2 separate regions of the Homo sapiens genome follow, and region 2 is linked to region 1. The links come from fine-mapping of genetic effects on gene expression. A gene starts in region 1. The other region holds a variant in brackets. All regions are shown on one strand. Distances are between the middles of the regions.

Region 1 (5,375 bases):
ATAAAAACCTAGAATCCAGAACAACAAAACATGATACATTGAATATCAAAATTTAGAACTACCTGATGAAAAACATCATAAAGTAAAAAAGACAAACAGCAGACTGGGAAAAATGTCATATATAAAATAGACAAAAAAATTAAAGTCTAGAATATATAAAGAACCATAGCTCAAAAAGAAAAAGACAATGGAACAGGCAAAGGATATAGGCAACAATCCACAGAATAAGAAATATATGACAGAAGAAAAACTAAAAAAAAAAAAGAAATATAAAAGATTAAATATGTAAAAAGATGCCAACCTCACTAGTAGATAAGAAAATGCTAGTTATATATTAGCACTGTATGACCCTTGGCAAGGCATTACCAGAACCCACCTCAACCCTGGCAAAAGGCTGGCATCAGAGTGGCATCTTACCTTTGACACATAGTAACGATCAACTCCAGAGATGCGCCTATCTCTTTCCATCAGACTCCAGTGATACCCAAAATGAGCAACCCTTTTTTCCTTCAAATAAGAGACAATTATTGTTGCAGTTTATAAAAGTGAGTGACCCAATTGATAGATACTACAATTTTTAAAAGGGACATTCCAGAGAAATGGAATCATCGTTTAAATAAAAATGCAAATTAGTAGTACAAAGAACAGAATCTCCTAAATAAAATCAGACCACTAAACTTTAGGATTAAGTTGGTACCTGTGACTTTTTACACTATTTTAACCAACATGAATTTTTTTTCCTTTTTTTTTAAAAAAAAAAAAAAAGAAATATCTAGTTGTTGTCTTTTGGGACACTAAGAAACAACAGCTGTAGATCACACGTGAAGAACAATAACAAAATCAAAAAGTAAATAAATTTATATCCTGTACTCTTGAGATGATGTGAAGGACTAGGAAGAGGGGAAAATGAATCCTGATGTAAAAAAACAAGATCTCGCAGTAAATTCCTAAAGGCTTGCAAGAGAAAGTGGGGAATAAAAAAGTCAAGGGTGGCCGGTCGCGGCGGCTCACGCCTGTAATCCCAGCACTTTGGGAGATCAAGGCGGGTGGATCAACCGAGGTCAGAAGTTCGAGACCAGCCTCGCCAACATGATGAAACCCCGCCTCTACAAAAAAAAAAAAAAAGCCAGGCGTGGTCCCGGCTACTCGGGAGGCTGAAGCAGGAAAATTTCTTTCTTTATTTATTTTTTTTTGAGACGGAGTTTCGCTCTTGTTGCCCAGGCTGGAGTGCAGTGGCGCGATCTCGGCTCATCGCAACCTCCGCCTCCTGGGTTCAAGTGATTCTCCTGCCTCAGCCTCCCGAGTAGCTGGGATTACAGGCATGCGCCACCACGCCCAGCTAATTTTGTATTTTTAGGAGAGACGGGGTTTCTCCATGTTGGTCAGGCTGGTATCGAACTCCCGACCTCAGGTGATCCGCTCGCCTCGGTCTCCCAAAGTGCTGGGATTACAGGCGTGATCCACCGCGCCCAACCAGGAGAATCTCTTGAACCCAGAAGGCGGAGGTTGCAGTGAGCGATTCTCAGGCTTGAGCCACCTTTTCTAATCTACCTTCCCGGCCCCCGCGTCGCTACTCTGCCCTAAGGCCCACTCTGATACACCCAGAAACGCTGTTTTTCACTAGAGCAGGATGTAGTTTCTATCGGGCTTCGTTTCGCAAGCCTCGGCTTCTAGGCAACCGGAAGCAAGTAGAGGGCCGACCTCGGAGAGAGGGTTCGCAGGCTGACGGTCTCCCTGCCCACCACCCTTTTCGGAAATCAGCCCGTGGAGTCGGCCCCCGGGCCGAAGCCGGCTTACCTTGCCCCCGTTAGTGAACCTGTGGATGTACGCAGTAGCCAGTCCTGGAATCAACAAGCACACGCCCATGACGGAGAGTCCGGGGAGAATCTCGAACCACATCTCTGCCCCGTTACCTAGGCCAAAACCCTACTTCTGGGTCCTTGAAAGGTGACCTGGCTTCGCCTCTCTTCCCAGCAAGCCCCGCGGCCGCCCGCGAGCGGGGCGGTGCCACGTACGGCTCCGGAAGAAGCGACGGAATCTGCTAGGGCACAAGAGAGACGGGCGCTCGGGCTCTCGCAGTCCTCTTCCGTCAGTGTCTTTTGCTTCGACTCCCGGCGGAGCGCGCAACGTGGAGTGACGTGCAGGGGCCAAGTGCAACCCAGGCAGCCACGGCTGTTTCGGAGCTCAGGACTCTAAAATGGCAGAGCAGCTTTCTCCAGGAAAGGCGGTGGATCAGGTGTGCACCTTCCTTTTCAAAAAGCCTGGGCGGAAAGGGGCTGCTGGACGCAGAAAGCGCCCGGCCTGCGACCCAGAGCCCGGAGAAAGCGGCAGCAGTAGCGACGAAGGCTGCACTGTGGTTCGACCGGAAAAGAAGCGGGTGACCCACAATCCAATGATACAGAAGACCCGTGACAGTGGTAAACAGAAGGCGGCTTACGGCGACTTGAGCAGCGAAGAGGAAGAGGAAAATGAGCCCGAGAGTCTCGGCGTGGTTTATAAATCCACCCGTTCGGCGAAACCCGTGGGACCAGAGGATATGGGAGCGACAGCTGTCTATGAGCTGGACACAGAGAAAGAGCGCGATGCACAAGCCATCTTTGAGCGCAGCCAGAAGATCCAGGAGGAGCTGAGGGGCAAGGAGGATGACAAGATCTATCGGGGAATCAACAATTATCAGAAATACATGAAGCCCAAGGATACGTCTATGGGCAATGCCTCTTCCGGGATGGTGAGGAAGGGCCCCATCCGAGCGCCCGAGCATCTACGTGCCACCGTGCGCTGGGATTACCAGCCCGACATCTGTAAGGACTACAAAGAGACTGGCTTCTGCGGCTTCGGAGACAGCTGCAAATTCCTCCATGACCGTTCAGATTACAAGCATGGGTGGCAGATCGAACGTGAGCTTGATGAGGGTCGCTATGGTGTCTATGAGGATGAAAACTATGAAGTGGGAAGCGATGATGAGGAAATACCATTCAAGTGTTTCATCTGTCGCCAGAGCTTCCAAAACCCAGTTGTCACCAAGTGCAGGCATTATTTCTGCGAGAGCTGTGCACTGCAGCATTTCCGCACCACCCCGCGCTGCTATGTCTGTGACCAGCAGACCAATGGCGTCTTCAATCCAGCGAAAGAATTGATTGCTAAACTAGAGAAGCATCGAGCTACAGGAGAGGGTGGTGCTTCCGACTTGCCAGAAGACCCCGATGAGGATGCAATTCCCATTACTTAGGTTTCCCATAATTCTTAAATTTAAAAAATAAACGTTTTGTTCTTTTGGAAGTCTTACTTCGTGTCCTTCCTTTGTAGAGAAAGTGACAGAGCAGGCGGGTGGTGAAGTAGGGTCCTGGATTAAAAGCTTCAAGGTAGGTATAATCAGGATTTTTAGCCCTAGGATAACCATTTTGCCTGTGTTTCTTTTCAGAACACTTTGGCATAAATTATAGGGGTGGGAGTAGTTTGAGAAAAGAGCTATAATTTGCTCGAAGTAACCAAAGCCATGATGAAAGCAAGACCTCTGAGCCTGTTTATTATATCACATTTCTGTATCACTTAATAGTTTACAAAGTACTTTCATGCATTCTTTCTCTTGGGAGCCTGTACTACAAAATATACCCGAGCCAAGGTGTTGGGGAGAGGGGTTGTGTTTGGGGAACTGGTAGCTAGCACCACAGGCTTCACATATGGGAAATGTTCCTTGCTGTCTTGGTTATTTATTTATTTATTTGTTTTTGAGACGGAGTCTCGCTCTCTTGCCCAGGCTAGAGTGCAGTGGCGCGATCTCAGCTCACTGCAACCTCCGCCTCCCCGGTTCAAGCGATTCCCCTGCCTCAGCCTCCCGCGTAGCTGAGACTACAGGCGCATGCCACCACACCCGGCTATTTTTTTTTTTTTTTTTTGTATTTTTAGTAGAGACGGGGTTTCACCATACTAGCCAGGATGGTCTCGATCGCCTGGCCTCGTGATCCACCTGCCTTGGCCTCCCAAAGTGCTGGGATTACAGGTGTGAGCCACCGAGCCCGGCTCCCTTGCTGTCTTGGAAGCAGCTATAGTTAACCCCCACGTCCATGGGTGATAAAAGTATCTGTGCTCAGCTATCCAGTGTGACAGACACTAGCCCCAGGTGGCTATTGAGCACTTGAAATGTGTCTGACCACTGTATTGGACATTACTATTGTAGACAGAACTCGTGAACCTGCAGAGGTCAAAAACAATATTTTATCATCCATTACCTGAAACTATCTGTGTTCTCACAGTCTCTGTAATAGTGCTGATCACACCTTATTAAAATTAGTCAATGTACCTGTCTCTCCAACTGGTTTATGAACTCAGTGACTAGCCTAGTGCTTGGCATATAATAAGCACTTAATAAATAAGCCTAGAGAGGTTTAAAAAGGGAGATTGGGGCCAAAGCCTTGAATCCAAGCTGAGGAGCGTTGACTGTATTCTGTAGGCAGCGGGGGAGATAGCAGAGGTTTGGGAAGAGAACACAATCAGACTTGGGTTTTTTTGTTTGTTTGTTTGTTTTAGTGTTACTGTGGTTGCGGCTATAGGATGGCTCACAAGGGAGATGGAACACGAGGCCGGGAGGCCAGTTAGGCCAAATGATTAGTAAATTTTTATTGATATGGCTAGAATTTGGGCTAATCCCACGAAACAGATGCAAGAATAAATTCTGGGTTAGTGGTTTTTATTCACATTCATTAATCCATTTAAAGATATTCTTTTTTTTTTTTTTTGAGACAGAGTCTTGCTCTGTTGTCTAGGCTGGAGTGCAGTGGCGCGATCTTGGCTCATTGCAACCTCCGCCTCCCAGGTTCAAGCAATTCTCCTGCCTCAGCCTCCCGAGTAGCTGGGACTACAGACGTGCACCACCACACCCAGCTAATTTCTGTATTTTTAGTAGAGACAGGGTTTCACCATATTGGTCAGGCTGGTCTTGAACTTCTGACCTCGTGATCCGCCCGCCTCGGCCTCCCAAAGTGCTGGGATTACATGCATGAGCCACTGCGCCTGGCCTAAAGATATTCTTTGAGTAGCTACTCTAAATCAGGCACTGTGCTTGGCATGGGGGATATTAGCAGTGAACAAGATGGACACAGCCCCTGCCCTCATGGAGCTGGACATTAAATAATGACTGTTTGTTTGTTTTTGAGACAGAGTCTCGCTGTGCCACCCAGGCTGGAATGCAGTGGCATAATCTCAGCTCACTGTAACCTCCACCTCCCAGGTTCAAGCAATTCTCCTGCCTCAGCCTCCTGAGCTGGTCTCGAACTCCTGACCTCATGTGATCCACCCGCCTGGGCTTCCTAAAGTGCTGAGATTACAGGCCACCGTGCCCTGCCTGTTTCGTTTCTTTTAATTTCAAATAGGATCTC
Region 2 (5,375 bases), 67 kb after region 1:
GGAATCTGATCAGAGGTTCAGAATTGGAAGTACAATTTCATTGCTTTTGCAATTTATACAAATTAATTTTAGTGTCAGAAAAAGCTGATGGTGAGGACATGCATTGCAATTTGCAGGGAAATGTCAAGTGAGGACTTCATTACGTATGACACGAGAGAAAAGTAAGAGCTGGTTCTAAAATCAAAAGCTGTTGTTCATCCCGAGTTGAATTTTCTTTTTTTTTTTTCTTTTTTTTTTTTTTTTTTTTTTTTAGACAGGGTCTCACCCTGTTGCCCAGCCTGGAGTACAGTGGCTCAATGTCGGTTCACTGCAACCTCCACCTCCTGGGTTCAACTGATTCTCCTGCCTCAGCCTCCCGAGTAGCTGGGATTACAGGTGCCCGCCACCTTGCCTGGCTAATTTTTGTATTTTTAGTAGACATGGGGTTTCACCACGTTGGCCACGCTGGTCTTGAACTCCTGACCTCAGGTGATTCCCCCCGCTTCGGCCTTCCAAAGTGCTGGGATTACAGGTATGAGCCACCGTGCCCGTCCATTCCAATCTAGTTTTATTGCATTGTTGATGATAACTGTTGACTTTGGGAAGTGTAGAAGCAACAAGCATGTCCTTGTAGTATAAGTACAGTGAAGGATAGAACAAACTTTTGTTGGTGCCAAAATTTAAATAGTCATGTTACTTCTGCATCTAATGTCCTAAAGTTTAAGGATTACTTTTAGTTTTTTGTTTGCTTACATGAGCTTAGCATGAAGAATATTTTCAAACATCTGCTTTTATCTTCAGCTTTTTTTATTTTTTATTATACTTTAAGTTTTAGGGTACATGTGCACATTGTGCAGGTTAGTTACATATGTATACATGTGCCATGCTGGTGTGCTGCACCCACTAACTCGTCATCTAGCATTAGGTATATCTCCCAATGCTATCCCTCCCCCCTCCCCCAACCCCACCACAGTCCCCAGAGTGTGATATTCCCCTTCCTGTGTCCATGTGATCTCATTGTTCAATTCCCACCTATGAGTGAGAATATGCGGTGTTTGGTTTTTTGTTCTTGCAATAGTTTACTGAGAATGATGATTTCCAGTTTCATCCATGTCCCTACAAAGGACATGAACTCATCATTTTTTATGGCTGCATAGTATTCCATGGTGTATATGTGCCACATTTTCTTAATCCAGTCTATCATTGTTGGACATTTGGGTTGGTTCCAAGTCTTTGCTATTGTGAATAATGCCGCAGTAAACATACGTGTGCATGTGTCTTTATAGCAGCATGATTTATAGTCCTTTGGGTATATACCCAGTAATGGGATGGCTGGGTCAAATGGTATTTCTAGTTCTAGATCCCTGAGGAATCGCCACACTGACTTCCACAATGGTTGAACTAGTTTACAGTCCCACCAACAGTGTAAAAGTGTTCCTATTTCTCCACATCCTCTCCAGCACCTGTTGTTTCCTGACTTTTTAATGATTGCCATTCTAACTGGTGTGAGATGGTATCTCATTGTGGTTTTGATTTGCATTTCTCTGATGGCCAGGGATGATGAGCATTTTTTCATGTGTTTTTTGGCTGCATAAATGTCTTCTTTTGAGAAGTGTCTGTTCATGTCCTTAGCCCACTTTTTGATGGGGTTGTTTTTTCTTGTAAATTTATTTGAGGTCATTGTAGATTCTGGATATTAGCCCTTCGTCAGATGAGTAGGTTGCGAAAATTTTCTCCCATTTTGTAGGTTGCCTGTTCACCCTGATGGTAGTTTCTTTTGCTGTGCAGAAGCTCTTTAGTTTAATTAGATCCCATTGGTAGTCCTTGTTTGATTCTTGACAATCCAGTGTGTGTTTTATCTTAGGTCTCATGATCTGAGTGTGTACCCTCTCCAGGAAGGAAACTGCATCAATGTCTGTTCCTGTTAAATAGCAACTTTTAGTCTCAGCTTGTTTTGTTTTGATGTCAATAAATAGTAACAACATTCAAGTATGAAGCTAAGTGTGTTTATTAACTTCACTAAATAGCTGTTATATTTGAGAAATTAAATTTTTGATACTGAATTAACCTCTGGAGAATTTCAAAAGTGCATGAATGATATTAGTTTCTGCTTTCACTGGCATGCCTTTGTTTTGTCTACCAGGGAAAAATCAGTTCATGGTTCACTCCTATATTAGGCCTGATGTTTTTTGGCTGTGCCCCCACCCACATCTCATCTTGAATTCCTACATGTTGTGTGAGGGACCCAGTGAGAGGTAATTGAATAATGGGGCAGGTCTTTCCTGTGCTGTTCCCATGATAGTGAAGAAGTCTCACAAGATCTGATGGTTTCATAAAGAGGAGTTCCCCGGCACAAG[C/A]TCTTTTTGTCCTGCTGCCATCCATGTAAGACATGACTTGCTCCTCCTTGCCTTCTGCCATAATTGTGGGGCCTCCCTACCCATGTGGAACTGTGAGTCCATTAAAGCCTCTTTTCCATCCCAGTTTCGGGTATGTCTTTTTTTTTTTTTTTTTTTTTTTTTGAGACAAGGTCTTACTCTGTCACCCAGGCTGGAGTGCAGTGGCGTGATCTCAACTCACTGAAACCTCCACCTCCCAGATTCAAGCAATTCTCCTGCCTCAGCCTCCCTAGTAGCTGAGATTACAGCCATCCGCCACCGTGCCTGGCTAAATTTCGTATTTTTAGTAGAGATGGGAATTCACCATGTTGGCCAGGCTGGTCTTGAACTCCCGACCTCAGGTGATCCACTGCCTCGGCCTCCCAAAGTGCTGGGATTACAGGCATGAGCCACCACTCCTGGCCTCGGGTATGTCTTTATCAGCAGTGTGAAAACGAACTAATACAGGCTGTTCTTACATTATTATAAAGAAATACCTGGCCGGGGCTGGGGGCAGTGGCATATGCCTGTAATCCCAGCATTTTGGGAGGCTGAGGTGGGTGGATCACGAGGTTAGGAGTTTGAGACCAGCCTGGCCAACATGGTGAAACCACATCTCTACTAAAAATACAAAAAATTAGCTGGGCGTGGTGGCACACGCCTGTAGTCCCCAGCTACTCAGAAGGCGGAGGCAGAAGAATCACTTGAACCAGGGAGGTGGAGGTTGCAGTGAGCCGAGATTGTGCCACTGTACTCCAGTCTGGGTGACAGAGTGAGACTCCATCTCAAAAAAAGAAAAAAAAAAAATACCTGGCCAGGTGCAGTGGCTCCCGCCTGTAATCCCAACACTTTGGAAGGCTGAGATGGGCGGATCACTTGAGGTCAGGAGTTTGAGACCAGCCTGGCCAAAATGATGAAACCCCATCTCTACTAAAAATACAAAAATTAGCCAGGCATGGTGGCAGGTGCCTGTAATCCCAGCTGCTCAGGAGGCTGAGGCAGGAGAATCACTTGAACCCAGGAAGGTGGAGGCTGCAATGAGCCGAGATCACACCACTGCACTCCAGCCTGGGCAACAGAATGAGACTCTGCCTCAGAAAAATAAATAAATAAATAAATAAATAAATACCTGAGACTGGATAATTTATAAGAAAAGAGATTTAATTGGCTCCCAGTTCTGCAGGCTGTACAGGAAGTGTGGCACTGGTATCTGCTCGAGTTTTGGGAAAGCCTCAGGGAGCTTTTACTCATGGTGGAAAGTGAAGCAGAAGACATCCCACATCACAGAGTGAGCAAGAGAGTGAGTGCGGGGAGGAGGTGCCACACTTTACAACAACCAGCTCTGTAAAACTCACTATGGAGAGGACAGCACCAAGCCATGAGGGATCTGCCCCATAACCCCAACACCCCACCAGGCCCCACCTACAACACTGGGGATTATATTTCCATGAGATTTGGGTGGGGACAAATATCCAAACCACATCAACTATTCTGGTCCCTTAAGAACAAAATGTTTAGACAACATCCTTGAGCTTTTGCCTGATTTTCATTCATTCTGCCAGCCCTTCCTAACATGGCATCACTTTGCCTTTACTTTCTAAATAACTTTGTTTCCTCAGCTTTTAGAAACAAGTAGCCCAAGAGGGAGGTACAAGAGCCACCAAAAATGATTGAAAGTGAATGACTGTCAGATGGGCGAGAGGATTAAGGGAAGGGAAAATTTCAAGAAGGAGATTGGCTGACATTGTCCCATGCCACAGAGAGATTAAGGAAGACAAGAAATGGAAGTGTTCATTGGATTTGGCAGTCGTGATTTCATTAGTGAACTAATGAAACTGATGACCTAAAAGAGATAGAAACCATGTTATAGTGAGGGGTGAATGGCAGGTGGGAAATGGATGTATGGATTTGGAATTCATCCATTTTTAGGGGTCCATTGAAGTCATGACCATGGATTCTGTCACTTTATGGGGAGAGAGTGAAGTAGGAACAGAAGCAGACCTAGGGCCCAGCCTTAAAGAACTCTTAACATTACACAGAGGTAAGGAAATGTATCTACAAAGACAGAAAGAATAGCCAGAGTAGGAGAAATACCAGAAGACTCCGGTGTTACTTAATCCAAGAGAAAAGTGTTTCAAGGAGGAGGAGTGGCCAGCAAGGTTGGCCACTAAAAATACGGCTGGGCGTGGTGGCTCATGCTTGAAATGCCAGCACTTCGGGAGGCCGAGGCGGGAGGATCACTTGAGGTCAGGACTTCAAGACCAGCTTGGCCAACATGGTGAAACCCCACCCCTACTAAAAATACAAAAATTAGCCGGGCGTGGTAGTGCACATCTGCAATCCAAGCTACTTGGGAGGCTGAGGCAGGAGAATTGCTTGAACCTGAGAGATGGAGGTTGCAGTGAGCCAAGATCGCGCCACTGCACTGCTGCCTGGGTGACAGACTGAGACTCTGTCTCAAAAAAATAAACACCAAAAAAAAAAAAAAAGAAAAAATATTAAAAATACAAAAGTCAGCCAGGCGTGTTGGCACAAGCCTGTGGTCCCAGCTACTCAGGAGGCTGTGTCAGGAGAATTGCTTGAACCCAGGAGGCAGAGGTTGCAGTGAGCCAAGATCACACCAGTGCACTCCAGCCTGGGCAAGAGAGCAAGACTCTGTCAAGAAGAAAGAAAGGAAGGAGGAAAAAAATGGAAAGGAAGGAAGGAAGGAAAAAGAAAGAAAAGAGGAAAGAAAGGGAGGGAGGGAGGAAGGGAAAGAAAGAAAAGGGAGGGAGGGAGGGAGGGAAGAAAGGAAGGAAGGAAAAAAGGAAAGAAGGAAGGAAGGAGAGAAAGGGAGAAAGAGAAAAAGGAGGAGGAAGGAAGGAGAAAGAGAAAGGAAGGAAAGAAAAGAGAAAGAAAAGGGAGGGAGGGAGAAAGGAAGGGAAAGAGAAGAAGGAAGGAAGGAAAAGGAAATAAGGAAAGAAGGAAGGAGAAAGAAAAAAGAAAGAAGGAGGGAGGGAGGGAAAGAGAAGGAGGGAGGGA

Direction of the effects. Alleles are on the strand shown, and positions count from the first base shown. SD is a standard deviation of normalised expression in the study named.
For the expression in sigmoid colon of the gene that starts at base 2,078 in region 1, C is the high allele of the variant in region 2 and A is the other (small effect, 0.26 SD a copy in GTEx).

The links.
Region 2: its variant is fine-mapped to the expression of RNF113A in sigmoid colon (GTEx, PIP 0.92).

What each region holds. Positions count from the first base shown.
Region 1 is chrX:119,868,436-119,873,810 of GRCh38, reverse strand. It overlaps RNF113A (ring finger protein 113A), which reads left to right and starts at 2,078. Exons shown (of 1, transcript NM_006978.3): 1 at 2,078-3,336. The coding sequence starts at 2,198. The coding sequence ends at 3,229. It overlaps NDUFA1 (NADH:ubiquinone oxidoreductase subunit A1), which reads right to left and starts at 1,979. Exons shown (of 3, transcript NM_004541.4): 1 at 1,798-1,979; 2 at 418-507. The coding sequence starts at 1,899. RefSeq lists an enhancer at 1,656-2,365.
Region 2 is chrX:119,801,904-119,807,278 of GRCh38, reverse strand. It overlaps LOC107985694 (a long non-coding RNA gene), which reads right to left. Exons shown (of 3, transcript XR_001755949.2): 3 at 1-1,900. It also overlaps a transcript of UPF3B not described here. Among named protein-coding and RNA genes, the nearest start is that of RPL39, 13 kb to the right of the region's middle. The variant C/A (reference allele first, on the strand shown) is at 2,337.